Linked DNA regions of Homo sapiens: all the other regions are reported to be linked to region 3. Evidence: microRNA targets listed by miRTarBase, many of them from high-throughput screens and not tested one by one. Region 3 holds a microRNA gene; each other region holds the end of a gene's coding sequence.

The links. The annotated mature microRNA hsa-miR-124-3p reads UAAGGCACGCGGUGAAUGCCAA and lies in region 3 at 3,631-3,652, opposite strand. An mRNA with a match to its seed (bases 2 to 7 or 8) in the 3' UTR can be bound and repressed. Matches are read on the target gene's strand: a 7mer-m8 pairs with bases 2 to 8, a 7mer-A1 pairs with bases 2 to 7 and ends in A, and an 8mer does both.
Region 1: the mRNA of FAM120A is a reported target of hsa-miR-124-3p. The part of its 3' UTR that is shown has no 7-base or 8-base seed match.
Region 2: miRTarBase lists FGFBP1 as a target of hsa-miR-124-3p. Seed matches in the 3' UTR shown: 7mer-A1 at 4,557-4,563.
Region 4: the mRNA of AFAP1L1 is a reported target of hsa-miR-124-3p. Seed matches in the 3' UTR shown: 7mer-A1 at 1,453-1,459.
Region 5: the mRNA of CCN5 is a reported target of hsa-miR-124-3p. The part of its 3' UTR that is shown has no 7-base or 8-base seed match.
Region 6: miRTarBase lists MYO19 as a target of hsa-miR-124-3p. Seed matches in the 3' UTR shown: 7mer-m8 at 762-768.

The regions. Positions count from the first base shown.
Region 1 is chr9:93,563,524-93,568,610 of GRCh38, forward strand. It overlaps FAM120A (family with sequence similarity 120 member A), which reads left to right. Exons shown (of 18, transcript NM_014612.5): 18 at 706-2,589. The coding sequence ends at 1,017. Among named protein-coding and RNA genes, the nearest start is that of PHF2, 11 kb to the right of the region's middle. RefSeq lists a silencer at 2,890-3,309.
Region 2 is chr4:15,931,200-15,936,286 of GRCh38, forward strand. It overlaps FGFBP1 (fibroblast growth factor binding protein 1), which reads right to left. Exons shown (of 3, transcript NM_005130.5): 3 at 4,378-5,087. The coding sequence ends at 4,729. Among named protein-coding and RNA genes, the nearest start is that of FGFBP1, 5.0 kb to the right of the region's middle.
Region 3 is chr8:9,899,769-9,904,768 of GRCh38, forward strand. MIR124-1 (microRNA 124-1) reads right to left here and starts at 3,704; the gene lies at 3,620-3,704. It overlaps MIR124-1HG (MIR124-1 host gene), which reads right to left and starts at 3,561. Exons shown (of 3, transcript NR_024281.1): 1 at 921-3,561; 2 at 787-844; 3 at 296-518. It overlaps LOC124902057 (a long non-coding RNA gene), which reads right to left. Exons shown (of 4, transcript XR_007061170.1): 3 at 4,764-4,860; 4 at 4,302-4,419.
Region 4 is chr5:149,339,295-149,344,381 of GRCh38, reverse strand. AFAP1L1 (actin filament associated protein 1 like 1) reads right to left here. Exons shown (of 19, transcript NM_152406.4): 19 at 745-4,375. The coding sequence ends at 4,352. Among named protein-coding and RNA genes, the nearest start is that of GRPEL2, 3.7 kb to the left of the region's middle.
Region 5 is chr20:44,726,340-44,731,426 of GRCh38, forward strand. It overlaps CCN5 (cellular communication network factor 5), which reads left to right. Exons shown (of 4, transcript NM_003881.4): 4 at 748-1,472. The coding sequence ends at 968. The region is part of intron 3 of KCNK15-AS1 (KCNK15 and WISP2 antisense RNA 1); the gene reads right to left. Among named protein-coding and RNA genes, the nearest start is that of CCN5, 14 kb to the left of the region's middle. RefSeq lists an enhancer at 370-895.
Region 6 is chr17:36,491,919-36,497,005 of GRCh38, reverse strand. MYO19 (myosin XIX) reads left to right here. Exons shown (of 26, transcript NM_001163735.2): 26 at 600-1,370. The coding sequence ends at 755. ZNHIT3 (zinc finger HIT-type containing 3) reads right to left here. Exons shown (of 5, transcript NM_004773.4): 3 at 4,107-4,193; 4 at 3,000-3,080; 5 at 1,184-1,783. The coding sequence ends at 1,602. Among named protein-coding and RNA genes, the nearest start is that of ZNHIT3, 7.8 kb to the right of the region's middle.

The DNA.
Region 1 (5,087 bases), not on the chromosome of region 3:
CAGCCCCATCACGGAGAGTGGACAGAGCCAGCGTATCATATGCTAAGGTTGAGGAGCCCTGGTCTAATGATAGGAGCAATTCAAGATCTGTCTTCACTGCCTTCACAGAGAGCCATGTCTTTCAGAAAATGTGCTGGATTAGTCTCAAGGACCATTTTTTTCAGAGGCTTATTTTTAAATCTGTTCAGAGGAGTGGGGAAGACCCATTCAGAAGAGTTATTTCACAAACACGTGGCAATTATCAGTGCAGATTTCTTGTTAAGGTTCCCTAGCAATGACTGTATTTCCCCAGTAGAAATGGGGTGTGTGTGCTGCTGCACATCACAGGCAGATGTGGGAGACCCTGTTTGTTTTGTGGCAGTGGGAACAGTCGCAATTTTAGAGAGGACTTATTGAGGGGCATTTGTTACTTTAAACAATTTAGTGCCATACAAAGGATTAGACAGAGCTCCTGAAGGGGGAATCTCCCTCATTTTCAGGGTGTTAACTACAGAGGAGTTGAGGGAAGGGGCCATGGAGGGAACTGACTGAGACAGGTAGAGCATCTACCGCCCAAAAGTCAAAGCAAAGACAGGGTTAGAAGGACCCAGCTGGGCATTTTCTGCTCTTGAATCTGCAGAGAGTGTCATTAGGCCAAAATTGGCATCCTCTCTCTTCTGTTTATCAGAAACCACCTTCTCATTTGTTGTCCTTCATTTTAAACAGGGCAGACCTCCTTATGCTGCTTCAGCAGAAGAAGTGGCCAAAGAACTTAAGTCAAAATCTGGGGAATCGAAGTCCTCTGCTATGTCTTCAGACGGGTCCCTGGCTGAAAACGGAGTGATGGCCGAGGAGAAGCCGGCTCCCCAGATGAACGGGAGCACGGGTGACGCCAGGGCCCCCAGCCACTCTGAAAGTGCCTTGAATAATGACTCTAAAACGTGCAATACAAATCCTCATTTAAATGCACTAAGTACAGACAGCGCTTGCCGCAGAGAAGCTGCTCTGGAGGCAGCTGTCTTAAATAAAGAAGAGTAAACTTATTTTTTATAGAGGGTGAAGGATGCTGGAAGGGTAAGGATTTAGGAATATCTGGAGAGAAAGAGAGCCTGCAGTTATGTACATTTTGTCCTTTCCGTAAGAGAAAAATGAGGACTTTGGAAATTCAGATCCCTCTTTGATATCAGAGATTTAAACAACACATTTTTAGTTTTAACCAGTTGTAGTCAAAATGCTACAATAAAACAAAAAAGAGAAAGAAAATGAAGAGCATTTGACTCCCGCACTTAAAATGAAGTACACATAAAGTTTAAACTGGTTATGACAAAAGCCTTTAGTTGTGTTTCTTGAACTATAAAGAAAACAAATTTTGGCAGTCTTTAAGTATATATAGCTTAAAATATAATTTTTAGCATTTGGCACCATATGTATGCCATTATATTTGATTTTGCATTACTGTTTCACAATGAAGCTTTCTTTAAGGCTTTGATTTTTATGATTATGAAAGAAATAAGGCACAACCACAGTTTTTCTTTCTTAAATTTCATCACTGTTGATGTGGTTCTTTTGTGTTAAAAAAAAAAAGTGCAACTATCAAAACTAAAAAATTATAGAGTAATATTGCCGTTCTGCTGATTTTAAATATACAATACATCATACATACTTTACAAGCAAGTTAAATGGAGATAAAGTTGAAATCATAGAAGATGCAAATGACCTTTCAAAATCAACACAATGTGTTCTGAAACTTTCGTGACTAATACCATGCATCTGTGATCAATGAACTATGTGGTTTTGAATCGGATGTAGACCATTAGTACTACTACTTGAGCTAAACTTCTGCATGGTTCATAATTTTTAAAGTGTGTAGTTAATATGCATGTTATCGTCCTTTCTTCCATTCTTAACAGTATGTGCCCATTTGCAAAACAAAAATGCTAATAATCAGTAATAGTCCTATAAAAGATGTTAACTCTGTTTAGTCATTGACTGATCTTGCTCTAACCTTAAAATTTTGTGATTATTGACCTCTGTTGCATTTATTCTAAAGCCCCCCAAAAATTATCTAGCCGTTTCGAATATCAACATTACCCTGGTGTATTCACTGCTGTATGCATTATTGTTCTTTGTTGCTGTTTTATGCCTTCATATTAGCAAATATGAAATTCTGTGAAAAAAAACCCTTTGATCTTAAAAAAAAAAAAACCACCCCCCCCTTCTGTAGCAGGAAACAAATTGCTTGTTCTTGAGAACTTTCCCATCAAGAATTTAGTAGAAGCAGGTATACTTCTATCATTTTGATGTTTTTGTTAATGTTTCCAAACAATGTACTTTGAAATCAGAATCACTTCTTATCGTTTTCATATACTTCTGATGCTCTTCATCACATTAGTGATCAGAAATGAGGTGTAATTCCCCAACCCCTGCCCGCAAGAGCTAAGTAGGATCTTACTGTAAGTTGAAGGGAGTTTTGCCCTAACTCATGGATTGTGCAAGAATGAACTGCTGTTGGGTTTGATTGACTGTCGATGGATTGTGGTGTGGTGTATCTGAAGGCTATTGAATGCAACTTACAATGCTTAATAAAAATCTTTATTCTTTTAGTATAAAGTATGGCGTGGCTTTTAAATTCACTTGTAAAAGCTAATTTTATAGAGGTTTAATTCAAATCGAAACAACTACTGAAAAGATCAGAAAACCAAAGTTGAAAAATATTTTACCTTTTCAAAGTAATTCCAGGTTTCCGGCTTAGAGGGACATTAATATATGATTAATTTGTTTGATAGCTCAGTTTCAAGCAACCAAGGGGATAAAAAAATTCTGTTTGATAAAGCAGACTTACAGAAGAGGTTTTTTTAAGCCCTGAGGAAGCAATAAATTTGACTCCACCACGTTTTAAAAGCTGGATGTTACAAGTATAGTCCGTTTTTCATGCCATCCTTTTGACTGAAGGCTCTTCTCTGCAGCCTGATATGAGGTCCCCGTACCCAGGTCCGCCGAGCGCCTGGAGAAAGCGCCCCGTGCTGCCCTCTAGCGGGGGATGGTGGGCTAACGGCGCCGGAGGCGGCCAGGAGAGCTGCGGCGATCCCGCTCCAGGGAGGGGCTGGCGCTCGCCCGGGGGCGCGTTTCCTTCCTGTGGAAGGGCGGGGCGGGGCCTTGCGTGGCGCTTCCCCGTCCGCCACCGCGCAGGTCCCGGTGCGCGCGCAGCCCGCGAGGCGGGGCCGTGTCAGTGAGGCCTACTCCCAGCTTTTTCCTCCCGGAGGCTGAGACTGCGCCGTTGAAGCCGGTTCTCTGTGCGGGGCCGGCGCCGGGCCCAGCAAAGACCCGAGTGCCCCGAGAGAGACCGAGCAGACCCTGGGAGCCCGAGTCCCAGCAAGGCCCGAGCCGAGCCAGTTTCTCCAACTAGCAGCCTGAGAGCGCTCTTGGTCCTGGCTGTTCAGACCCCAGACGAATTTACCCCTTCTTTTTATGGGGTGGGCCTTCAGAGTTTGAAGGAAGTGAAGCTAGCCTCGCTCACTCCAGGGCCTCTTCCCACCCTGACTCGCCGGTTCCTGACGGTGGCCCGCTGTTCCGGGGCCACGGCTGAGTCCCTCTGCGCCAGCCTCCCGGTGGCGGGCCAGCCAGCCCCTTCTCTGTGCTGTGAGAAGATGGGGGCGCCCGGACGCTCCATCTTTCAAAAACACCATTCCACTGAGGACCCTGCCTGTGACGGGAACCAGTCTAACCCACTCTGGATCGCACGTGCCTGGCAGAGGGACAGCGTTGTGGAGGAACACTTTCCAGGCCCACCAGCTTCCACCATCCATTGCTAGGCAGTACCTCTCCCACCGTGACAACCACGCGCTTTTCTTCCCTCTCTCAAGGGGCAGGCCCACGCCACTTGAGAATAGCAAACTGACAGGGAGAGCCCTCTGGCTTTAAGAGGGGAGAGGGACAGGTTTCTGAACAGTACAGTCTCAGCAGCAGGAGCGCGCGCATGTCAAGGGTCCCTCTCTGCTCCCTGACAAGCAGGTGCTCCTTCTTTCCGGTGGTTCTCATCTCTTAGTTGCAATTGCTGTAGGTGAGAGAGCAGCACAGCTTGCTTTAGGTCACTCTCAGCAGGGACTGGGCTGGAACCCAACCCTTAGCTCCAAGTTGGGTCTGTCCACCCGCTCCTGAAGCTCCAGTAGGTGCAGGCGTGGGCATTAAGGAGAGAGGAAGGGAGAGGGTGCTGGGGCTCCGGCGACCCTGTGGCTGGAACAAGGAGGCCAAGGACATCCCTCCTTGCTGGAGCCATGCTGGCCACTCCTTCCACACCACCAGAATTGCAGAGGAAGGCCCAAGGGCGATGCTGTCATGGGCCCAGGGGTCAGTGGCTGTGGGTGGCACTGGTGCGGGCTGGACTGAATGGTGATGCTGGTGTTTCTCCTTCCTGGCAGCATGATATCCTGGGGCAAGTCGTATGTTCTGCTGCCTGGCCATTTATCCTCTTCCTTTTCAAAAAAATAGGTTTTACTGATTTTTTTTTCTTGTTTCAAAAGCAATATGTGTTTATTGTGGTAAGTTTAAGAAATACTGGCTAGATACACAAAAAGGAAAAGAAGTCCTCGGTAATTCCCCCATCCTGAGACACCTGTTTTTAACATTTGGTCTCTCTCCTTCTATACAATATATAGATTTTTTTCTTATACAAAAAAAATCATGTTAATATTTTGTAACATTTTCCCAACTTAGCATCATTTGATGATTGCCTTTCCCTACCATTCCATATTCTGCCATAGTTCCACAGACTCCACGGTGGGGCTGCATCGTAACGTATTCAGTCTTTCCCCACCAGCATGGTTGGACATTACCTTGTTCTGCAAGCACTTGCGGAGAGTCCGTGTCAGGCCCAGCCCTAGGCCCCATGGGACAGAAGATGTCAAGGCCCCTGCCTTTCTGGCATTTACATTTGAGTAGGGGGACAACATACATGTGTACAAATAAGAATATTTCAAGCAAGAAAATGAGAAAAGATGGGGAGATGGGTGGCATGGGCAAGTGATGCAGCCATGAGTGGAGGCTATCTGGGAATACAGGTCTGGGCCAGGAGCAGCGGATGGAGCACCCAGCCAAGGGGAATCCATGGA
Region 2 (5,087 bases), not on the chromosome of region 3:
GAAATAACTTGTTACAGGTCACTTTTCTTTTACTCTGGAGCCCGTAATCATTGCCCCTGCAGTGATTTCTCTCCTTCTCTTTCATATACTCAACCAATATTTATGGAGGATCCACTGTGTGCTGGGCATGCACTGAGCACCAGGGCTATGATGGTGGACAAGACAGATTTCATTTCTGCTGTTATTACCTACATTGTATTAGTCTGTTCTCTTGCTGCTAATAAAGATATACCTGAGGCTGGGTAATTTATAAAGGAAAGAAATCTAATGGAATCACAGTTCCACATAGCTAGGGAGGGCTCCCAATCATGGCAGAAGGCAAATGAGGAGCAAAGTTATCTCTTATTTGACTGCAGGCAAGAGAGAGCTTGCGGAGGGGAACTACCCTTTATGAAATCATGAGATGTCATCAGACTTACTATCATGAGAACAGCATGGGAAACACCTGCCCCTCATGATTCAATTACCTCCCACTGGGTCCCTCTCATGATGTGTGGGAATTATGGGAGCTACAATTCAAGATAAGATTTGGGTGGGGACACAGCCAAACCATATCACACATTTTCAACTACTTTATGGAAACTCCCCCTGGAGAGCTCACCTCAAGCGCTCCAGGTCCCAAGCCAGCCTTCTTCTAGAATCTTCTCCCCATCCCTCCCATTCTTCAGAGGGAGTCTCAAAAAGATTTTCTTGGATATTGCTGCATGAAATGGTGAGCATTGTACACAGCACATTATGCAAACCAACACATCAGAGGATGGCTGGTGTCATATCTGCTTGAAAGCTTTCAGCCCCAAACACTTTGGCATTCCTGCCATTTCTGCCAAAAACAACTTCGGAGAGAGGCTGGGGAAGGAGGCTAGGTGAGATCTGTTGGATTCCAGAGATTCAAGTCAGCACTGGTGTGACTGTGAGTTACCACACAGAGCTGGGGTGCCCGAAGGAAGAGACCCTCTTTCTGCCGAGATGTGGTTTTATAAGGAAAGAGAGACATTCCCACTTCTGAGTGGCTTTAGGGGGTACAGACATGCCAATCTTCAGCACATCTTACCTACCGAAAAATTTCCATCTTTTGCTGTCAAAACAAGTCATATCTTAAAGACCACACACACAGAGAAAGTTGGCTTCTCTACTTCATATCCAGAAAGTTCTCAGGGAGAAAATATGTAGCACTAAGGTGAATAGAAGTCAATGTAGCCGGGCACGGTGGCTCATGCCTGTAATCCCAGCACTCTGGGAGGCCAATACGGGTGGATCACCTGAGGTCAAGAGTTAAAGACCAGCCTGGCCAACATGTTGAAACCCTGTCTCTACTAAAAATACAAAAATTAGCTGCGCGTGGTGGCAGGTGCCTGTAATCCCAGCTATTCGGGAGGCTGAGAGAGGAGAATCGATTGAACCTGGGAGGCAGAGGTTGCAGTGAGCTGAGATCATGCCACTGCACTCCAGCCTGGGTGACGAGAGCGAAACTCCGTCTCAAAAAAAAAAGAGGAAAAGAAAAAGAAAAAAGGTAAAAAAAGAAAGTCAATGTAAATCTGTGGAGCCTCTATTTACATATTTCTTTTTACTGTGTTCTTAAAACATCCCCTCAGCATATGACTATGATCGGAGGCTGAGTGCAATGGAAGTGTTCACTTCTAGAACTTTCTCTCTGTAAGGACAGGAAGAAGATATATATGTGGAATGGACTGATGGATATTGTTCATTGTCAAGTTTGGCCTACATCCAGAGACCATAAATGTCACTCTTCTATCACTGAGTGAAGAAAATCATGCACTTCAGAGGCAGAAAGGGCTTGGGACCTCCAGGCCAGGGATTCCCATTATAGGCTCTGCCATTTAATAACTTCATAACCCTGGGAAGGTTCCTCGGCTTCTCTCAGCCTCACTTTCCTCATCTAGAAAATGAAGGTGAGACTCCTACCAGATGGAGTTGTGGGGGATTCACGAGACAATGGAGCAAAACCACTGGCACACAGTGGGTGATCCATAATGGTGGCTCCTGGCCACTTGTACTACAGACACAAATAAACAAAACCAAAAACCTTCCACAGTTAGAGAGTTTTCACTGGGAATTTTGACTTCCCTCTACAATTCAGTCTCCTGCTGTGGACTTTAAGTGGTCAGTGGTGTTGAACAACTATTATCTAACTATTGGCATAGTATTAAGAGATTCAGAGATATTGACCAATGTCAGTGTTTCAGGACCCTTAATAATGGGTGGGTTTCATGATTCCATTGTCAAGATGAGCTCATTTCTGCTCAGAAGATTAAATAATTGGCCCTGAGACTGGTTATCTATCAGCAGAAGCAAACTTTGTGCTGAGATCCAGGTCACTCTTCCATGGTAGAGGCAAAACTCCTTCCAGTTCTGCCAGTGACCAGAGGCCAGGAGTGAACTCAAACCAGCAACTGCGGGCCTGGAGGAGTTTAAGGAGGTTTTGGGTCTGTTCTCCAATGTTCTTGCCAACCCATAACAAACCTGATGACTGTTGAGTGACTCCTGGAGGAGATTATTATTCTTTTTCTATCTCAGGGCTATGTTACATATGTGGAGGAGGGGGCCACAGGGCTGAGAACCTGTGTAGACCTTAAGGGAAAATATCCTTTCTTTGCTGTGGCTTGAAGGAGCTTGGGGAGGGTCTGGAATGTTGCTTCAGTGCTCTTGGAGTTGGTGGTAAGGTTCACAGGTCAGGCCCCAGGCCCCATCCTACAATGACCCCACCCTCTTGGACATTTCTCTAACATGCCAAGCATGATCCCTGTCATGGGAATGGAAGTGCCATGAAGACAGGGATTTCTTTTTTCTCTTTCCTTCATTGCTATTTCTCACCTATGGTAGAGTTCCTGGCAAAAAGAAGGGACAAATAGGATTGAATAAATAGATTAACCATGATTTCAGGGCATATGTTCTGACTGGTCCCTCTGTTTGGAACATGCTTACCCAGGAGAGTTCCCTGGCTAAAAAGAGATTCCTCTTTTTAGGTCTAAGCTCAAAAGTAACCACCACAGAGAGGCTTTTCCTCTCCACCCCATCTAAAGCTCATTACCCTCGATCACTTTATCCCCTTCCCTTGCTTTAATAGTCTTCTCTATCGTGTATCATGTATCATGAGCTCATCATCACTTTTCCCACTGTTCCATGAGGGCAGAACACTCGTCTCTTGTACATCCATTGCTGTATCTCTGGCACCTGGAACACAACCTGGAGTGAGTCAGTGCTCTGTAAGTTATGTGTTGAGTGAGTGAGTGAATGAATAAATCCACTATCCATGGGAAAACTTGGAACAGTGCTTGCTCATAGCAGGTAAGAGATAAGTGCTCTTTTTATTGATGATCATGATGACATCCAAATGTCACTCTGAGGCTGTGGCACTGTGGATTGGCCTCTGACGTCCTCAGTGTGCATCCCAGTAGGTTGGTGAATGTAAAAGGCTTTCCTTCCCCCCCACCTGCCATTCCTCCCTGCCACCATCAGACATGCTAAAGAACAGTGCTTTCGTCAGCTTCTGCTCCTCCTTTCCCTGGTTGTGGAATTGTGACAAGGCATTGGAGACAGTTCATCCTCTCTCCCCCACTCTTAAAATACAACTTTCAGATCCTTCATACTAACATATAAATGAATAATGGCAGTCTCATCGCTGCATCCCATCCGATCCCAGACACCTGACCTCTCCCAGAATCTGAAACTTCCCATCTATTCACTTTCATTCATGTTATCAAATGCCTAAAGTGCCTCCACTTTGCCCCATTTTATTCCCACAGATACTCTTTCCAAAATCCAGCTCCACTATTCCCTCCCCTGTTACACTCAAGCCCAGATCTTACAGCAGTTTCTGCCTTCTCTCTCTGGTTTTCCTTGTAGCCCTCTCCCCCTTCCTTTATAGCCCTTATCTTGGGCCACTGTACTTAACTAGGCCTTTCTTCTCCAAGAATGAAGAATGAAGGAATGAAACTCATTTCTTCTCCAGAATTGAGCTTTGCAAGGCCGGGGTCTTTCGGGTGGGGGAGGGAATGGGCAGCTCTGACATGAATCAGTAGCGGAGGTTCCTCAACCCTGTAGACTCAGCTGTCAGAGCTCCTGGGTTCCAATCCTACCGGCCCTCTTACCATCTATGAGTCCCTGACAAATGATTTAATCACATTATATACCAGGTGTCCCACCTGAAAACAGGGATCCTAGTTATTATACTTCAATAAACACCAAACACCACTGACCAATGGATACAATTATAAAGAAGGATTCCAGAAAGAGATAACTTGCGAAGGGTGGGGAACTGGAAGTTCCTGTTTAGATTGTTTTTCCATTGATATATGGGGACTACTTAATGAGTTTATTTGGGACCAGACACAGAGAAAACCAAGCAATGTTTGAATGTATTTCTGAAAAACACCCAGAGTTTTATTACCATTAATTCAGCAGAAAGTTCGTTGCACTGAAATTATCACTCTGGCTCATTCAGCTCAAAGACTCTTCGCTGCTCAAACACATAGCTGTGTGGGCCATGGAAATACATGCTGCAGGAAACAGCCTCTGAACATCGCATCCAAGAAAAATAAGGCAAATTCCAAAACACAAAAGCAAAAAATACAAAACTTGTTTAAATATTTCGTTGCACTCACTAAGCACAAAAGTTCATATTTTGGGGGGACTGTAGAGAGCTTTAAAGTATACAGAGGGACTTACGACATGACATCTCTTAAGGGAACCCGTTCTCTTTTGACCTCATTAGCATGACGTGTCCTGCACTATGCTGAGGAAGAATGTGCAGAGAGAGCTCCAAGTCTCTCCACAGAACTCCAGGGCAGTCTTCCTCTGGTTTGCCATATCTGGGTCCTCCACACACTCGGGAGCTTTGGTGGCCATGGTCTGGGTCACTGCTAGGCTAGAGGGGGTGGTCTCTTTGCCTTTGATGTGCTCCCTGGGGGACATCTCTGTTTTCTCCTTCCTGGGCTTTGTGTTCCCAAATAGAGTGGAGCTGACTAGCTTAAGACTGGATTCTGGAAAATCCTTTCTGCACACTCTGGTTTTCACAGCTGTCTTGGAATATCTACAGATGTCTTTCTGTGAGCGCAGATTCCGGGCAA
Region 3 (5,000 bases):
CTGACCTGGAACATTCCTTGCCCTCAATAAGGCCTGATTTTTTTTTTTTTTTTTTTTTTTTTGAGGCCATCTAAATTTGGTGCTGGAAGATCATTCCAGACCTTCTACACAGCTCTATAAGGCAAAAAGCCGCACACATTGCCTCCCATAAATTCCGTTTGAAGTCCTTTCTTCTATGTCTACATTTGTGATGCAATTAAGTATTGAATACATTTTCTTTAAAAAAAAAAAAAAAGCTGAGATGAGATTGAGAAAGACTTGGCAAAACACCCAATGAAAGAATTGTAGATGGGACTTGGGAAAAAAAGTCTTTATTAGGTACCATCATTCTCATTCTTGTTATTATTGACATCCTCGTCACTGTGAATCAGCCAGCCCAGCCTCCAACACACATACCACCAGCACAACTCCTCATGTTGACTCGTGGGCCCTGAAACCACCCACAGAGTAGATGAGGAAAGGGAGGCTCCATCTGTCCTAGGGAGAACGCTTTGCAGCTGCCCCCAGAAGACTCCATTCTAAGGTTGGAATGGGAGGAGGATATTATGTAAGTTCAAGAGGAGGAAAGAGAAAATGTTTTCTCTGTGGAAGCAGCATAGATGGATGGACTTTTGGTGGCTAAATGCCTTCCTCTAAATGCTAGCATTGGATACGGTTATGCGGGAAAATATATGTGTGCATATGGGCACACCCCTCCTCCGAATATCTCTCTGGCAAAAGCTCCTCATACATTCACAAAAGCCGCCCCCCTCCCTTTGGTAACAGAAGTAACTTACAGGAGTTTACCTTTGCCTCTGCTAGAAGGTCAATCTCTTTTCCGCTTAAGAGGAGATCTGGGCTGTTTCTGGCAGGGGAAAGAAGAGTATCACCAATTTTTCCTTTGACACATTTCTAAATCTGGAAGTATCTGGTAGAGTTACCTCAAGAATCATATAAGCTTGCATCACGATGGGGACTGTGATGGCAGTGGTGCATATGAGCCCATCAGGTCCTTCTTCGCGTATTCAGTCAGCAAACTGCCTCAACCGTGTCCTACTTTTTCTTAAGCATATAATTCCCCTTTCATTTAAGCCAGACTGTAGCTAGAGGGGCTCAAATAGGTAAGAGAGAAGATACTAAAGAGTTAAATGCACTCAAAGGGGAGAACTATTCAGATTTCTTATAAAATTACTGGTGGCATAAATAGGCCCCAAATACAGAAGGGAAGGGCTGACCTTCACTCGGACACCTCATTTGAGCACAGAAGGGGCCTGGCAATTACACATGGGGCCAAGTGGTCTATTCATCTCTTTGCCATTTTCAGCCATTAAAGCCCTACATAAACATACATTTCATAATGAGACCCACCCGGTGGACACAGGCAAATGCCCACACCCATGCGCACAGACCTAATAGACCCAGAACACTCCCACACACATTAAAGCTTTCTGGAACAAGAGTTTACATAAGTAATGAAGTAAAAAATATGCCCCTCCCATCATAGATTATCTGCAGCAGAAACCTGGCAGGCGTCAGCCATGGTACCTGTGGTTTAAGCTCTCAGCTTAAAGCATCTGAAAGGGGCATTACGTGGGAAGGCATCTGGAGGTTTTACAGGAGGGCAGCACATCAGCGAAGGGTACAGCAACCTCTGAAGGAATTACGGGGAAGCAGTTACTAAAAAGAGGCTCGTCAATGTGGACGTTTGTGGGGCAAGGGGTTTAGTAATCGGAGGCTTAAACCATGCCTAAGAGAAGCATCCAGCGGCCTTCACAGTGAGCAGAAGGGGCAGAGCAAGGCGCTTCACACCCCAATAAGGCCCAGCACTGACTGCTTTCTTCTTCCCAAACCTGTCCAGAAAGGGCGGAGGGGACACCAGGACTCAGAAAGCTACTGGTTTCGGGGGAGGTATATTTTGAAGGCAACGGCAAATAGACAAGGGCTTGTGAAGGCTCAGGGGTGAGAGAAGCTGTTCTCCCTTTCTGTCCTGCAGCCAAGCTTGCCTTCTGGGACTCCAGAGGCAGCCCAGCACCTGCAGTCTGCAGGATGTGCACTGCAGCTTTCTCTCTGCGGGGGCAAGCAGGTTGTGCCACATTCTGCAGACCCAGAGAAGGTTCTGGAAGTATCTAGGTGAGGTGCAACACACTTAACCTCTGCCTGACTCTAAACACTGCTTTAGGAGGGCAAATGAAGAGCCTAAGAGTTAATAATTACACAAGGATTGCACACAGTAGGTACTTAATAAATATTTGGGGAAACTGAGGCCGGGGAGGGGCCCTGATCCAAGGCATCACTGAATACTAATTTATTTAGCAGGCTAGACTGAGGCTTTGGAGAGGAAAGAAGTCCTCAGTAAGCTTCAGTGGAGACTCTTAGGGCTTGATTATTGTGTCAGGAATCAAATTAATCTCCTAAGCATCCCTTATGGCCTTGGCCTTGCAAAGCCAGGCCTCTGCCATGCTCGGGGGAAGGGATGCAGCAGGCTTCCTGGGCAGAAGGATCCAGCTCTTGGCCTCCTTTCTCTGCTCCTCCCTCTACTGCAGGGACCTGCCCCTCCTCCATTTCCTCCACCTGGAAATTAATGAGCTTAGGTCTTGCCCCATCCGCTGCAGCTTGGTGGTTAATACAGAGCTGGAAATGGGATGAGACTGTGGCAGCGCAGTACGAGGGGGGTCTCTAGGACCAGCTGCTGCTCAGGGTCTAGTGATGGGAGGAAGGCCTGATTTGGGAAGCAGGTTCTTCAGGATGAAAAGCTTAACCCTTTCCATTCCCTGACAGCCTCTTTCAAAACAGTCTTTCCTCAGACCCCCAGTTGCACACATTCTGTTTTTCCTTCTGTTCACATTTTTAAAGGAACACATGTCTCCCTTGGGTCCATGTAGGTTATTGTGCCTCTCCCTTCCTCTGCAGCTCCTGGATCTCTGCCTGAAACTGCAATAACAGCTACAGGGAGGGCGTGAGGTGCTCCTTAGAGCCATGACCACGCTTTCAACTCCGATAGAGCTTGTGAACCCGCTGGGAGCTGGCTCCTTCTTGTCCACATAGCCCAACGACTTCCTTAAGCTTGTCAGGTGCTCTCAGCTCTACAGCAAAGTGTGACAAACAGCTCCCCCTCTCCCTTCCTACCGCCTGCCCTCCTCCCCAAACCTCAAGCAGAACACAATATATCCGCAGTCCAGGCCCTGAGGCAGTCTGCCAGTCTCTGGATGCCAAATTATTATTTTTTTAAGGGCAAACCAAAAAACTCAGCTCAGAACAAAAACACAGTCACGGAGGAAGGTGTTGACCCACATACAATGAGTCCTGAGCCCAGAGAAAAATCTGCACACACAAGCACTCCGCAATGCGCTCCCAGGCGACCCCCTCCCCACGCACACCGCATCTGTGCTGCACAGATCTGCTTCTGTCACAGAATCAGCTTCTGTTTCTCTCCCTGAGTCTGTTTGCATCTCTAAGCCCCTGTCTGTCACAGGCTGCACACCTCCCCACCCCACGGGCTCCGGTGCGGGACAGGCAGCCGGAGGGAGCTCCAGACCCCTCCCCTCGCGCCCGCGGCCGCTGCGCGGAGGTCTGCGGAGGGCGCCTGGCTCGGTCGGTCGCTCCTTCCTTGGCGGGCCCTCGCCGACCCACGGTGCTCAGCCAGCCCCATTCTTGGCATTCACCGCGTGCCTTAATTGTATGGACATTTAAATCAAGGTCCGCTGTGAACACGGAGAGAGAGGCCTTTCTCCTGAGGAAGGAAAGGAGGAAGGAAGGAAGGAAAGGTGAAAGAAAGGAAGAGGGGTGGGTAGAAGATGGAATAAGAAAACCAGGAAAAAGAAATAAAAAGCGGCGCGTGTGCGTGCGCACTGACAGCGGGGAGAGGGATGGGGGTGGGGAACGCCGGAGGAAGGGACCACAGCATCCTCCCCGCCGCAGCTCCCCCAATCACACAGACAATGAGATAACAGCGACGTCTTCCAAAGGCTCTTTGTTCTCCCCCATCCTTTCGCATCCAGGCTTTTTCCTGCAAAGCGGAGGGGGTGGAGGGATGGGGGTGTGGGTGGAAGTGGGAGACGGAGGGGTGCCTCCCCCGTGTTAATTACCCCGGCTCCCCTCGCCCCTTTCCCCGCGCCTCGCCTCCCCTGCAGCTCCAGACAATGAAAAAACAACATCGACCCCACCTCGCCCCAGCGCAGCAACCCACCCACCCATGTCGCCCTCTGCTTCGCCCAGGAAACTGAAGGGGACTAGGAGGAGGAAGAAGAGAGCGAAGGACAAGGAGAGCAGCGGGGACTCGGCAGCGGCAGCCGGGGCAGGGCGCGCGGCCGCCGCCTCTTTACCTCCATCGCTGAGTGGGGGCGCAGCCGGGCCGGGCGTGCCGCAGGGGCGAGTTGCCGCGGTCCGGGGCTGGGACCTGGGGATTCAGCCTTCCGGAACTCGCCTGCTGCAGTCCTCTCGCTCAGGTCCCAAGTGGTGGAGGGGGGAAAGGAAGAGAGACGAGAGAGAGAGAGACAGAGAGAGAGAGAGAGAGAGGAAGAAGAAGAAGAAGAAGAAAAAAAAACCATAAGAGCGAGGCCCATCTGGCCCCTCATCAGCTTTGTCAAGTCTTGCATACGCTAAAATGCTAATGACCTAGATAGCTCATGCAAAATGCAGCAGGGAGGGCGGGAGCGAGGGAGGTGGGAGGGAGGAAGAGAGAGGAGTGCAGGGGGGAGGGAGGGAGGAGAGGCGGAGGGAGGGAGAGAGGGAGAGAGCACCCCTACACTCTCCCCACCCCACCCCCAACTGTCAGCGGGCTTTACCAGGTAAAGGGTGGACGTAGATTTAAAAGGTCACTCGTGTATAATGCGGCTGGATCCCCGGGTCAAAAAAAGGGGGCGAGACAGAGGATGAGAGTCCCTAAAGCCAAAAGGACAATAAGACATCATTTTAAGCCCCCACCCCCATGCCCTCCTCCACCTCTCCACACTGTTTACACACAAATCCTGTCGCCGCCTCATGCATGTGCACGGACATGTCAATTTCTCATCAATTTCTCA
Region 4 (5,087 bases), not on the chromosome of region 3:
CTGTTGGAACCTCCCAAATACTTGAAGCTTTGAGAGAGATGTGGCTGTGGTCTGAGTCCATGTAGCATGTTTTGTAGTTCTGCTTCTTAGAATTATAGCTTAATTCTCTTCCTCATTGTTCTTGTTCTGTAATGACTAGGAAAGAGCAGAGACCAGATTTCTTCCCTCTCAATTACTGATGTTTGTAATAGACAGCCTCCTTTATTGTCCTGCACCTAACTCAGACTAGATGGTGCCCTGAACTGAACTGACCCCATGACAGTTACATCTGCAGGATGTGATGTTAAATGTACCTTTCTTGAAGGAAAAAGACCACCTTAACTACTCAGATCATTGTAACTGTGCATTAAGCCTTGCATAGAAAGATGTTGAAATTCTGTTAAACCTCACTGAACCCAACCTTTCACACTTTGGAACACTGACTTCCATCTTTTTTAAGACAGACATATTTTTCCATTCTGTGCTTCCTGGGCAGGCCATCCTCAACCTTTGTGCTTGAATAAACTCTCTTTAAACTAGATTCTGACCTTTTAAATTATTTTAGATTGACAGGGAACATGTGACAAAGGCTTTCATGTTTAAAGAGTCACTTTGACTGCTGTGTGAAGCAGATTGCAAGGTGTAAGAAAAGAGGTAGGGAAGGCAATATGTTGCAGTAGCCCAGGCAAGATGGGGCTATATTCTGTCCTGGAAGAACAGAGAGAGACCTTCCTAACCACTGTAAAGTAACTGTGTCCAGCACCCTTTTAGTTTCTTAGTATTTTATTTCTTTTGCTTCCTTGTTAAGGTTTTTTCCTCCAACTAGAATGTGAGCTTCATGAGGTGTCTGTCTTGTTCACCACTGATTTCTGACATCTAGTATAGTAGGTACTCAAGTATTTGTTGAATGACTTAATTAAGTTGGATAGTGTCAGTGAAGATAGGAAGATATGGATGAATTTTAGAGATTTAGGATGGAAAGCTGACAGACTGAGAGGATGGATTGGTGACTGGGGTCCAGGGCACTTGGAGTTGCCAGCTTAGTTACTGGATAGTCCCTTAATTTTTTTTTTTAAGGGAATGGGAAGTGTTCCTTGAGCACTCTGAATCTTGTCATAACATGGGTTATTTGTACTGTAGTTATTTGGGTCACATTTTCTTTCCTGCTTGTCTCTGAGTTCCATGAGGACAGAGCTGGAGTATTTTCATCTTTTTATCTAATCCGAGGTCCAACTCAAATGTGTCATGACCAATAACTTATATTTTCTTTTTGGCCTTATGAAAAGGGTGATATGGTTTAGGGAGGTATTATGATTCTCTTTTACATATGAGAAAATTGAGGCTCAGAAAGGTTGGTAAACCTATGCAAGATCCCGCAATAAGGAAACAGTGACAGTAGAATTCTGACAGACTGAACACTTGGCAGTGTTGGGCTTAGACCTGTGGCTTACACTTTGAAAAAACACAACCAAATAAGGCATTTTTTTTTTTTTGAGATGGAGTCTTGCTATTGCCCAGGCTGGAGTGCAGTGGTGCGATCTCGGCTCACTGCAACCTCCACCTCCCGGGTTCAAGTGATTCTCCTCCCTCAGCCTCCCAAGTAGCTGGGACTACCGGCATGTGCCACCGTGCCCAGCTAACTTTTGTATTTTTGATAGAGATGGGGTTTTGCCATGTTGGCCAGGCTGGTCTTGAACTCCTGACCTCAAGTGATCCACCCGCTTCGGCCTCCCAAAGTGCTGGGATTACAGGCATGAGCCACCATACCTGGCCTAAACAAGGCATTTTAACAACCAAGAACAAGTGGCATCTGTGCCTTAGCCATTTTGCTTACATTTCTCCTAGCTGCCTAACGTTCACCAGGTTGCTGCTTGCATCCATGCATTCATTCGTCTATTTATTAAGTGCTAGTGTGCTTCTGAATGTTGCAGTACAAGGGGAGGGAGATATATGGATGACATAGAGCTTTAAAATTAAGAATAAGGCTCTAGGGTCAGACTTCTTATATTCACATGCTGGCTCCACCAGCATGTAAATATAAGAACTATGGGAGCTTGGACAAGTTACCTGACCTCTGTGAGCTTCCATTTCCTGAACTGTGAAAACTAGGGCAATATAACTTATCTCAGGGTTTCAGTGAAAACTAAAGGGATAATACCTAGAAAAGTGGTTAGTTAGCACCAGGACTGGCTATCTAATTTAAAGGGCAAAAGGAAAAGCAGAACTCCTTGTTCAAATATGATTAAGAAGGCAATAGTAGAGCATTAAACCAAGAACAGGGCCCTTCTAAGCATGGGGCCCTGTGTGACTGCACAGGTTGCATGCCTGTGAAGCTGGCCATGGCTGACACAGTGCCTGACATATGGTGAGTGCTTGATAAATGTTAATTATTAATTACCCCCAGCCACTCCTCTGAGAGTTCATCTGTTGGTGAGAAAAGACACTTAACCCCAAAATAACTGCATAAGAAAGAGTATGACAGACACTGAAGACATAGTTGGAGAGTTAGGTGACATTTCAGGATCCACGTTTTAAAAAAGAACACTGAAAAGTAATTTCCTCTTCAGTGGAAAGAACACAGGCTTGTGAGTCAGACATTTCTGATATAGCTAATAATAGCCACTTTTTTTTTTTAATAGATGGGGTCTTGCTATTTGCTTAGGCTGGAGTGCAGTGGCAATTCACAGGCGTGATCATAGTGCACTACAGTCTCAAACTCCTGGGCTCAAGCGGTCCTCCTGCCTCAGCCTCCTGAGTAGCTGGGACTACAGGCGAGTACCACCATGCCTGGCTAATGAGAGCCACTATTGACTGAGCATTTCTTATTTCTCAGACACTATGCAAGATGCCTACTATATATTATCTTATTAAATCTTCCCAACAATCTTGGGAGAAAAGTAACAATTGTTAGTCCCATTTCACAGATAAGGAAAACAAGAATCAGAGCAATCAAGTGACTTTCCCAAGGTCACCCAGCTGGTCATTAGAGGCATGGCTCAAACCTAGCCCTATCTGGATCTGGGCTTATAACCCCTAAGTCCTACGCTCTGCCACTAATCAGTGGGTGATTACTGGTCAGGTTATTTTTCCTGCTGTGGTCTCCAGCTACCTCAGAGGGTGATAAAGTTTGAGTGAGGCTAAAGTCTGTAAAACCTTAGGTGGGTTAAAATATGTAACCCCTATAGCAAAGTGGCCACGGTTATTCTGGGATTTTCCTTCTTTCCTCTTGAGCTAAGCACTGGCACTTAAGAGTTAAGTGGTTTTATCTTTATTGGAAGGAAATGTGTTAAAGACAGACTCACTACAGTGTTGAGACAGTAGTGAGTAGCACAGTAAGGAGACTGCCCAGGACTTGAGGTCCTTGGTCCCTCTATAGAAGTATCAAGTGTTTGTAAAAGGTTTAGCACCCATGTGACAGAAAGAAGCCATCATCCTCTTAATTTCTCTTGGTTTTACTTAATATATAGAAGGGCAAACTAGTGGGCCTCTGAGTGCAAGATGAGGACTTCATTAGAATAAAGACATATTGCCTCCTGGATTTCTAACCCATAGCTCCAAGAGCCTCAGTGTCAGAACATAGGTAAGGGACTTGATTTACTGAGAGACCCTACCCTACAACATCCTGTGGACATTAGAGCTCTGTGCTCCTGTCACTGAGTATCACTGTGAGCTTAAAATATGTCAGCTGCTCCATTTCTCTTTCCTTTTGTGTATTCAGAGCTCTGATTTTAAAACACTGAAATCTGGAAGATTCCAGTAGCTGCACTCTGTCTAAAGCATATGAGGAATGACTGTAGAATTTGCATGTCCTCTATAGCTTTTGTTCACATGTATGCAGGCAGGGATAATGTTATTGATTGTTCAACCTATTTACCTTGACCAGGGGTTGTTAGTAATGCCCAATATGAATCAAGTTGGCACAAGTGTGATCAGATGATCAGGTCTTGTCTCTTTACACTGCACCACCAATGCTTCAGCACTGCCTCCCTTTGCCTTAAGGACTGGGAGTGCGATGCTGTGAATGGGATGGAAGGGGTTATTCACATGTGCTTTCATTACTTCTTCCCTTCCTCAGAAGGGAAGGCAAAGACATCTATAAAACCTTTACAGCTGTGCAGACTTCTGTATCCCTCCATCCTCATTTCCACCCTTTGTAAAGTCATAAGGATGCTCTCCATTTCCCTCTTCCCTTCTACTTGTTCCCTCCCCATATCCCCTAAAATCATGCAGACAATAAAGGCTGGTATTTTGGGTGCCCTGGAGAACGAGGGCTACTTCCTAGTCTTCTCTTGGTGTCTCCTTGTGAAAAAAGCATTTCTTCCTCAGGTGGACAAGCTGGTATTTCCTTTGGAATGAAATCCTCATCCTCTTCCTAGGTCTTCTTCATTTCCCATTCCTGAAGCACAGAAAGAGAAGACAAATCAATTTGCTGAATGGTCTAGTGTGACATGGATAAAGAGATTTCACGGCACCTAGTTAGATGAAGATCTCCACTAGCCAGGTTGCGTTGGGTTCTAACCCCCTCTCTCTCTTTCTGTGGCCCTGAGTAAGTCACTTCTCCATGCTGGTATCTCTTGTCCCTTCATCCATTCTCAACATAGTTGCCTGAATGGTCTTTAAAAAATGTAATTTATATCCAAAACCCTTTGCTCAAAACCTTCCATCATGTCACAACAAGATCCATTATGTTAGAACAAGATCCATGGTTCCTCAGTGGCCTGAAAGGCTTTAGATGAAAGGCTGGTAAATGATAGTCTGTGGGCCAAGTCTGGCCTATTGTCCATTCTCATATAATCCATCAGCTCCTATTTCTAAATGTTTGGAAAAAAAAATCAAAAGAAGACGACTATCTCATGACACATGAAAATGATACGAAATTCAAATTTCAGTGCCTGTAAATAAGTTTTATTGGGCTAGGTGCCGTGGCTCATGCCTGTAATCCCAGCACTTTGGGAGGCCGAGGTGGGCGGATCACGAGGTCAGGAGTTCGAGACCAACCTGACCAACATGGTGAAACCCCCCGTCTCTACTAAAAATACAAAAAAATTAGCCGAGTGTGGTGTTGTGCACCTGTAATCCCAGCTACACAGGAGGCTAAGGCAGGAGAA
Region 5 (5,087 bases), not on the chromosome of region 3:
AGGTATATCTACACATACACATGCATACACAGCACACACATGTGGGTAGAAATCAGGGTTTCTCAACGTCAGCACTAGTGACAATTGGGGCAAGTAATTATTTGTTGGGGGGGTTTTCCTGTGCACTGCAGGGTGCTTAGCAGCATTCCTGACTTCTACTCACTAGATACCAGTAGCATCCCCCCAGTTGTGATCACCAAAACTGTCTCCAGATATTGCCAAACCTTTCCTGGGAGGCAAAATTACCCTAGTTGAGGACTTCTAGTGTAAGACTAGAAGGAAGGACACCAAAATACTCACAGAGGGAGACTTGGAGCAGAGAAAAAGCTAGACCATGGTGAACCTGCCATCTTGTTCCTGGCACAAGAATCCTGGAATCTTTAGCATCCTTGCCACTGGGCCAAAGCACCACTCCACACAGGCTGGGCACCCCCTGCCTGTAAAATGCTGTTTATCCAAAGAGACGAGAAAACCATGGTTCACTGAGGGACCATCGTGACCAACACACTCTGGTTGCCAAATAACTAATATTTATGGAAATCTTACAAGTACCAGGTACTGTGCTAGGCACTTCATGCCCATTATTTTATTCAATGCCATCCACTGTTAAGAAATTTACATAACAAGAAACTGAGATGCAGAGAGGCTGAGCCATTTGACCAAGATTGCCGTGGCCGCTGGCAGGTGGGTTGATTGAGCTGCTGAGCCCTGGCTGCTCAGTGCTAACTCTTGTTCTTTCCCCCCTAGGACCCCAGTTTTCTGGCCTTGTCTCTTCCCTGCCCCCTGGTGTCCCCTGCCCAGAATGGAGCACGGCCTGGGGACCCTGCTCGACCACCTGTGGGCTGGGCATGGCCACCCGGGTGTCCAACCAGAACCGCTTCTGCCGACTGGAGACCCAGCGCCGCCTGTGCCTGTCCAGGCCCTGCCCACCCTCCAGGGGTCGCAGTCCACAAAACAGTGCCTTCTAGAGCCGGGCTGGGAATGGGGACACGGTGTCCACCATCCCCAGCTGGTGGCCCTGTGCCTGGGCCCTGGGCTGATGGAAGATGGTCCGTGCCCAGGCCCTTGGCTGCAGGCAACACTTTAGCTTGGGTCCACCATGCAGAACACCAATATTAACACGCTGCCTGGTCTGTCTGGATCCCGAGGTATGGCAGAGGTGCAAGACCTAGTCCCCTTTCCTCTAACTCACTGCCTAGGAGGCTGGCCAAGGTGTCCAGGGTCCTCTAGCCCACTCCCTGCCTACACACACAGCCTATATCAAACATGCACACGGGCGAGCTTTCTCTCCGACTTCCCCTGGGCAAGAGATGGGACAAGCAGTCCCTTAATATTGAGGCTGCAGCAGGTGCTGGGCTGGACTGGCCATTTTTCTGGGGGTAGGATGAAGAGAAGGCACACAGAGATTCTGGATCTCCTGCTGCCTTTTCTGGAGTTTGTAAAATTGTTCCTGAATACAAGCCTATGCGTGATCTTGTGTGTCAGGCCTGTGTTTTCTGAGAAAGCCCTCCCATTATCCGGGGCAGAATTCAGGGGCAGAGTTCTCTGTGAACCTCACAAGGTGAAATCACATGGTCTTAAAGAAAGCCAGAAGACAGGCCTTCAAGTGATCCAAGAAACCCAATTCATATTAATAATAATTAACTTTTTTATTTATTTATTTTTTTGAGATGGAGTTTTGCTCTTGTTGCCCAGGCTGGAGCTGGAGTACAATAGCACGATCTCGACTCACTGCAGCCTCCCGGGTTCAAGTGATTCTCCTGCCTCAAGACTCCTGAGTAGCTGGGATTATAGGCGCATGCCACCATGCTCGGCTTTTTTTTTTTTTTTAAATATATTTTTAGTAGAGATGGGGTTTAGCCATGATGGTCAGGCTGGTCTCGAACTCCTGACCTCAAGTGATCCGCCCGCCGCCTCGGCCTCCCAAAGTGCTGGGATTACAGGCGTGAGCTACTGCGCCCAGCCAATAATTAACATTGCTTGAGCGCCTGCTATGTGCTAGGCACTAGCACTTTATACAGACCAGTGCTTCCCAGCGTTTTTGACCAGAGAAGAGCAGGGAGAATGAAGGCTGCCTCCCAGGGACTGGGGAGCATAGCCTGAAATCAACTAACCCAAGGGTGAAATTGTTCGAAGTCTCATGTTTTATTGTTTACAAACAAAACAAAACAAAAAACAAAAACAAAAAAAAACACCCAACACCAAATACATATATTTTACATTTTCCTCCATGGTCTACCTGTGTTTGTTTAAAAAGTAAAACTGTATTTCCATTAGGATCCAAGCAGGAAATTAGAAAACACTCTTGGTATTTAAACAGGGATTTCTTCTTATTAAACTAATTTTATTAAGGTATAATTTACCCATAGTTAAATATACAGATTTTAAGCATATGGTTTAACGAGTCTTCATAAACGTACACGCTCATGTAACCAACTCCTCAATCAAGGTATAAAACATTTTCATCATCTCAGGGAGTTCCCTCTGGCTCTGTTCCAGTTATCCCCCTGCTCCCCAAGGCAACCACTGCTCTGATTTCTATCACCATAGATGAGCTTTCGTGTTCTTGAACTTCTCATTAATACAACCATACAGCAGGTACTCTATAATGAATGACGTCTTTCACTCAACATAATAAAACAAAAGGAATTTAATGAGAGGACTTAGTCACCCATCTGAGAGGCCAAGTAGGGGACCGTGTGATGCAAGAGGAGAAATTCAACACCAGACCAGCCCTCGGGGCGGAGGGGCAGAGGGAGGGCAGAGCCCAGAGCTGGCACCAGCAGGCAGAGGAAGAGGACCTGGCAAGGCTGTCTGCTGGGAGCTGCAGCCGCTAAGGAGACACAGCCTCGCAGACCTAACAAAAAGTAGATGGAGGTGGGGAGACCTGCCCTGGCTTCTGCCTGCTGCTATCCCCCAGTTTCCAGTTATGCCTCCCATGAGTCGAACCTGCTGGGAAGGTGGAAGAGAGGGGAGCCTGGGAGATGCAGGACAAGGAAGGGCAGGAGGGTTCTGAGAATGAGGGCAATTCCCAGACACAGTGTTTGTAAATTACCCACCCCAGGTACGGTTGCTGGTCACAGAGGCCCCTGCTGCCCAGCCCCCAACACTTATCTCAGGTATCACCCCCTCCAGAAACCTTAGTTTGAGAATCACATGCTGAGTTTGAGCCATGTAACCTTCACAGAGCCCCTGCATGGCAAATATAACTAACTCCAGCTCAGGGATAAGGAAACACCCGGGAAAGCGAGCTGTCTAAAAGCTGGTCTGCAGCTGGGGTGGGATGCTAGTCCAACCTGAGTTTATCTGACTCTTGAGAATGGCTGTTGGTCTCTCACAGATTGAGAATTTCCATGGGTCTGGTTCTGCAAGGATAAACCCTAAACACATTTCCAGGCAAAATTCTGATAACATCCCCCAAAACAGGGAGAACACGGACAAGAATGAGGAATGTGCACCGAGGGACTCCCATACATAAGGCTCTCTCTGCCACGCACTCTGTCCACACCACTGCACGTCATCCTTGGGACATTCCTAAAGGAAAGTGCCACTAATACTCCCTGTTTAGAGATGAGTAAACTGAGACCCAGAGTGATTAACAAGTTACCCTGGAGTCGTGGAGCTGGGACTCAGGCCCATGACCTCACAGCTGAGCCGCCACTGTGCAGTGGTAGAGTGAGTGGGCTCAGCCAACCTGCCCAGGTGTGCATCCTGGCTCTGCTATTTCCTAGTGCTGTCATCTTAGGCAAAGTACTTAACCTCCTTGTGCCTCAGTTTCCCCTTCTTTAAAATGGGGATAATGGCAATACTCAACACAGAGGATTGTTGAAAGTGTTACGTGATTTACAAAAAAACTTAGGGCCGGGCGCGGTGGCTCACACCTGTAATCCCAGCACTTTGGGAGGCCAAGACGGGCAGATCACTTGAGGTCAGGAGTTCGAGACCAGCCTGGCCAACACATCAAAACCCCGTCTCTACTAAAAATACAAAAATTAACTGGGTGTGATAGCACACACCTGTAATCCCAGCTACTCAGGAGGCTGAGGCACGAGAATTGCTTGAACCGGGGAGACAGAGGTTGTAGTGAGCCGAGATCGCACCACTGCACTCCAGCCTGGTGGACAGAGCAAGACTCTGTCTCATTAAATAAATAAATAAATAAATAAATAAATATTGGAGGCCGAAAGATTGAGGGTCATGATCAACTCAGTATACCACTGGAAGCTATATGAGTAAGCAGCAGACTATTTCTCATAAATGCAGAATGTTGGCAAACTGACAAACTGTTTCTGCCATCCAGAAGGAATGCTGAGGGCAGTCACGCTCCAAGCATAGTGTTTCTTGTGATTAGGCCTAATTGAAACCTGTTAGTAACAATATGAATCTGTGATCAATCAACCAGCTAACCAGTCATTACCTCCTCCTCCCTGCTCATTCTACCCAATAAATAGGAAGGGCTGTGGAAGCTCAGGGACTGCCTTTGCTCACTAGAAGCAGGGAGTTCTCTTCTTCTTCCCCTGGCCCTTTCCTTTACAACAGTTTCTTTTGTCTTAAGTTTTCATTTCTACATTCGTCCCCTCGTTCAGTCCTGTAATGAAGTCTCAGGCAGTAACAGTAGTAACTGCTGTAATGACGGCCTCAAGTAGTAACAGTAATAACTGTCATAGTGACAGTCTCAAGTAGTAATTGTGGTAGTCTGCAACAAAATAAAATAAAATAAAATAAATTTTAGCAACCGTTATCCTAACTCTTGGCGCTTTAGTTTTTTGATCTGTAAAATGGGAATAAATAGTAGTGCCCACCCCACAGGATGGCTGTATAAAGTGAGTACCCGGCTGTGTGCAGTGGCGAGCACGCCTGTAATCCCAGCACTTTGGGAGGCCGAGGCGGGCGGATCACCTGAAGTCGGGAGTTCGAGACCAGCCTGGCCAACAAGGTGAAACCCCATCTCTACTAAAAATACAAAAATTAGCCAGGCGTGGTGGCACGCACCTGTAATCCCAGCTACTTGGAAGGCTGAGGCATGAGAATCACTTGAACCCAGGAGGTGGAGGTTGCAGTGAGCCAAGATCATGCCACTGCACTCC
Region 6 (5,087 bases), not on the chromosome of region 3:
AGGAAGTCATTGTCACTCAGGGCTTTGTGAGTCACCCCAGTAAGCCAGGCCTCATAGAATTAAAGTGGCCGAGGAAAGGTGAAAGTATGTTGCACTGGGAGGTAGAACCCCAGGGTCTGGATCCTGGTTCTGCCCCATTCACTGGATGATCTTGGCTAAGACACATTTTCTCGGAGCCTGTCTATAAAATGGGCTAATACTCAACCTACTGCATGGAGTCACAGCAAGGAGTAAGTGAAATGACAAGGCAGAAGGAAACACCAAATTTCCATTCAGAGGAATAACTATAGGCCTTAATCTGGATGAAGTCTCCCATGAAAACACACAGGCCTGCTAAACAGAAGGGTAAATGTTTTGCCCTTCTGGCTTTAAGCAGTCATAGGAATGTGACAGACATTCCTCTTAGGGAGCGCCTCCTCCTAGGGTTTCCTCATCTGTCTCACACTGAGTGGATGTAATGCTATTTTAATCCTGCTGTGGCCCCCAATACTAGTACTTGTCCATACCTTCTTGCATTTTTAGCGTCTGCTCTGTGGGGTTGTTAGGCCCTGGCACTCCCAGGAACTAGTGCTAAAGCTGCATCTCTCTCTCCCCTCTAGGGATCGATAAAGTTTCACTGCAGAAAGTCTCCACTGCGGTATGCTGACATCTGCCCTGAACCTTCACCCTACAGCATTACAGGCTTTAATCAGATTCTGCTGGAAAGACACAGGCTGATCCACGTGACCTCTTCTGCCTTCACTGGGCTGGGGTGATCCTTGGTGCCTTTGTTTCCACAAGGCCTTTTCCTGCCCCCTGCCTTGCCAAAGACATTTAATCAGCACACAGCTGCCAGACTATTCCCACAGTGCTCCAAATGCACATGAACAACAGTGACGGCTCCAGCCTTCGACCCAGAGCCCCGTGCCCAGTGCGTCAGTGGGCCTGGGGTTCCAGGCTACATCAAGCACTGATGGTGTCAGGGCTGGTAGTTACCAAATCAGGGTTAAGAAACATCAGGGCCACATTTCACTACCTTCACAGATCAAACTCAGCAGCAGTCATGACTGTCTGTCACTACACTGGGGATCCCAATTCCACATAAGCACTTTTGGAAGAAAACAGCCAAAGTTGGCCTAAAATTGGCGCTGGAATTTGGGCTGGGAAAAATCTTGTGGTTATTTCCTTTAAAAAGGAACAAAACTTTAGTATTTAATTAGTTGATTTATTTAATGTAATTTCAAACAATTAAATTATGAATAATGCAATGTACAGTAGAATCACGTTTTGATTTTATTAACACTGACCAAGTTTAACTCCATATGAAGTGTAAGCTTGATATCGTTTATGATGTCTATCAACTGTACCAAAAGTAAAACATTTAAAAACAATCATCTGAATGTCAAGTTTTCTCTCCATAAAGGACTTGCCACCTTAAGGACCCCAAGTCTGCCTGAAACATGAGCCACATCAATGCCGGTAAAGGCCTGCATGACCTAATCTGCATCCTGGAAACCTCTTTTGCCTGAGCTCCCCAGCCCCAAACTAGCTGGTCTGGGAGAGGGAGCAGGCAGGTTCCAGGAGTCAAGCACACGCTTGAGCAAGCAGCACAATAATCCATCTTAAGACTCCTCATTCTGGGATGGCTCCACAATTCCTAAACAGCAGTCTGCAAACTCCACAAACAAAGGCTCTTGCATGTAAGCTCTCATGAGCTTTGCTTTGTCTTCTCCCTGATCGAGGTTGACCATCAACTGCCTGAGGTGTGGATTGAGCAATAAGCTTCTTAATGTTGCAGATTCCCCTAAAAATTAACAAGAAAAAAAGCCAGTCTGAGTTCAAGTGGAAACACATGGAGATGGCTGAAAAGTGAAGAGCTATTTCAAGTGTAATAAAACTATCAGCAAGGTGTGGTGGCTCATGCCTGTAATACCAGCAACTGGGGAGGTCAAGGTGGGCAGATTGCTTGAGCTCAGGAGTTCAAGACCAGCCTGTGCAACATGGCGAGACCCCACCTCTATAAAATGAAAGGTAAGACCAGCATATCAAACTATTTCCGCATTAAATGCAGTAACAGATACCAGTTCTTGGTATCTTTGTAAATATTGTAACTTCGTGCCACTTCAGCTAAGAAAAAAATGCTTTATCAGCACAATCACAAAGCAAATAGTAGCATTAAGCTGCTGGCATGTTTTCTTTCTTTCTAGCCATAAAAGTTGCCAGTGGTGAAGACGGCTATACGAAATAATCTGAATGATGTCTAAGCATGCCATTTGGCATGCAGCAGCACCAGTAGCAGGGAACCAACAATAATACCTGCATGGTACTTCACAGTCTGTAAAATTTTTCACACCTATTACTAGCTCATCTCCAAACTCAGTCTAACTAATCATTACCATGAGACTAAGTGCAAAACATAACCTTTTAACATGATTCTGTGAAATGGGAAGAATGAAATTAACAGACCCCATGCACATGTAACAGAATGTTGTAAGGACTGAATAAGCAGTGCTACAAAAATGGCAACACCTGTTTCCCCCTAAATCAAATCATGTGATAACCAGTTTGTGTTAAGGGCTGGACTGTGAGCTGAGCACTGGGGATCTGGGAATACAGGTCCCTGCTGTACAAATCGGTATGTGAGAGACAAATTACCATGAAATGTAACAGTGATTTATTACTATTAAGTCCAAGTTGCTATGGGAAACCAAAAAAGTGCCTAATTCTGAAAGAGACACAAAAGGTCAAGAAAAGCTTAGCTGAGTGAAGAAAACTTGAACCAAGGCTTGAAGGAGGAGCAGAATTTTGCCAACCCACAAGACCAGCAGGATTCCAGGCAGAAGGAATGGTGTGGGCAGGCTGGGAGGTGTGAAACCCTGTATGTTTACAGATTATGTGGCTAGATAGTAAGAGCCCTACATGCCATACTTATTCAAGAAATTAAAAACTTTTTAAAAAATCACAATCCTTACAACACAGTAAATGTATCTCAACGATTGACAAGCATAGCACAGACTTACCTAAATTCTTTAAATTCTGCAAAGAAACTCTGTCTTCTTCCTCATCACTATTGAGAAAATCAGCTATAGAGTCATCATCATCTAAGGAATACAAAACAGTCAATGGCTCATGGCTAAAAAGGAGGCCTGGGCACCAGATTTTAACCACTACTTGAACAGGATAAAAATGTGTGCACGCACATGTGATAGTGATAGGGGTATTCAAGCAGGTACAGACAAAAATCCTCTTCTCCGGAGTCTGTGACTATACTAACACTCCTTTTTTAGAAGAGGGAGGCTAAGTGAAAGAATTGGTGATTTTAACAAATGCACTCTAGTGTTCACATCCTTACTGTATATGTGGTCCTGTGGTCTTTAGGCTTAGACCCCGGTTGTCTAATAACTTAATACCCATCCCCACCTCAACATGGCTCCAACCCTGTGATGGGCCAATTAACTGGATGCTCTGTAAAAACCAGCCAAGTAGAATCTCCTGTGCTTTCAGCATGGGCAGAAACTGCTGGCATTGCCTGAACCCAACCTGGAAATTTCTCAAAGGGCAAAAATGGGCCATGCCTTTGGAGTGAATGTTCAATACCTCTTTGGTGGCACCAGAGGGGCTGCTTTCAGAGCCTGGCATGGTGCTTGACACCCAGGAGGTATTAAAGAACGTTTAGATGGCTGGACGGATGGGTTGACAGCCCACTACTGCTGTGAGCTCTGAACCCCCAGCAGCAGCGAGATGATCTAGGACAAAGAAAGCCTCCTGCCTGGGCTGAGTTCAGGTGAACTGACAGTCCCAGCCAGATTCATGGAGGGAGACCAGCAGCTATGGGCTAGAGAAGGCTCCTGCCAGCAGGGCCCACCGCAAACCCCCAAACCACAGCCATGGCCTTTCTCATCTCTGTCTTCTGCCCATTTTTCTTCTCCTGAATACTGCTTTCAGGCTGTTGCCTCAATATCACCCATGATGACATGGCCCCACTCCTGATGCTCAAGGCTAAGGAAGCTGTTCCTTCCCAATGAAGCTATTGTTCTGGATTCCCTGACCAGCCCCACTCTCCCCTTTTCCTTCGACTTATTCTATGTGAAGTCCCTTGTAGATTTGTTTGAAGTCAACCAACCCACCTTTGTTTTCCACAGGCTTTACGGTTTTGGTAGGAAGAGCTGATCTTATTTTTTTCTCAACAGGACGAGTTTCAGGGTTGCACTGTTCTGAAAAAGACACAAATCCCAGGCCCACATTACCTCCATTTCAGCGACAAGGCTGCACCTCCCTACCAAGGTAGCATCTAGGTAGGAAGCAAGTGTCTGGGGTAAGGGATGTGGGTGGGTGCCCAGGAATGTGGAAGAAGTGAGAGATCAAAGCAAGAGAGAGATTAAGGAAAACCGCCAGCAGGCTGAGAAAGCAGGACTCATTCATGCACCCCAAGAACCTGTCCCCATCCTCCCTACCCTGCCGAATCTTACAAAATTCTCACCACAATTAACTGAGGTGTTTGAAATAGCTGCTGTAAACCAGATACCAGATGGGATAAAACTAGGGGCAAAACCACCAAAGAACTTACAGAGTCAACAGAAGGCCAGCTGTGCTGGCTCACGCCTGTAATCCTAACATTCGGAGGCCAAGGTGGGAGGATCACTTGAGCCCAGGAGTTTGAGACCAGCCTGGGCAACCTAGCAAGACTATGTCTCTACAGAAAATAAAAAAAATCATCCAGGCATGGTGGTACACACATGTGGTCTCAGCTACTTGGGAGGCTGAGGCAGGAGGATCCCTTAAGCCCAGTGTGTCAAGGCTGCAGTGAGCTGTGATTGTGCCACTGCACTCCAGCCTGGGTGACAGTATCAACAGAGCATGAAGTCACAGGAAAGGGTTCTGAGGACATAAAGGCAGGACCAGATTGTAGAGACTTAAAATGTAGATTTGACAATATGCTACGGAAAGGTTCTAGTCATGTAGGTGGCAGTTACAACAGCTGCCAGTGACTAAGTGCCGAGCACTGTGCCAGGTACACAGTGAGATACATAGTGGCTCAATGAACCTTTACGAAGCCCCCATGACATGGAGACTGTTAATTCCACTTACAGATGAAAGGATTAAATTTT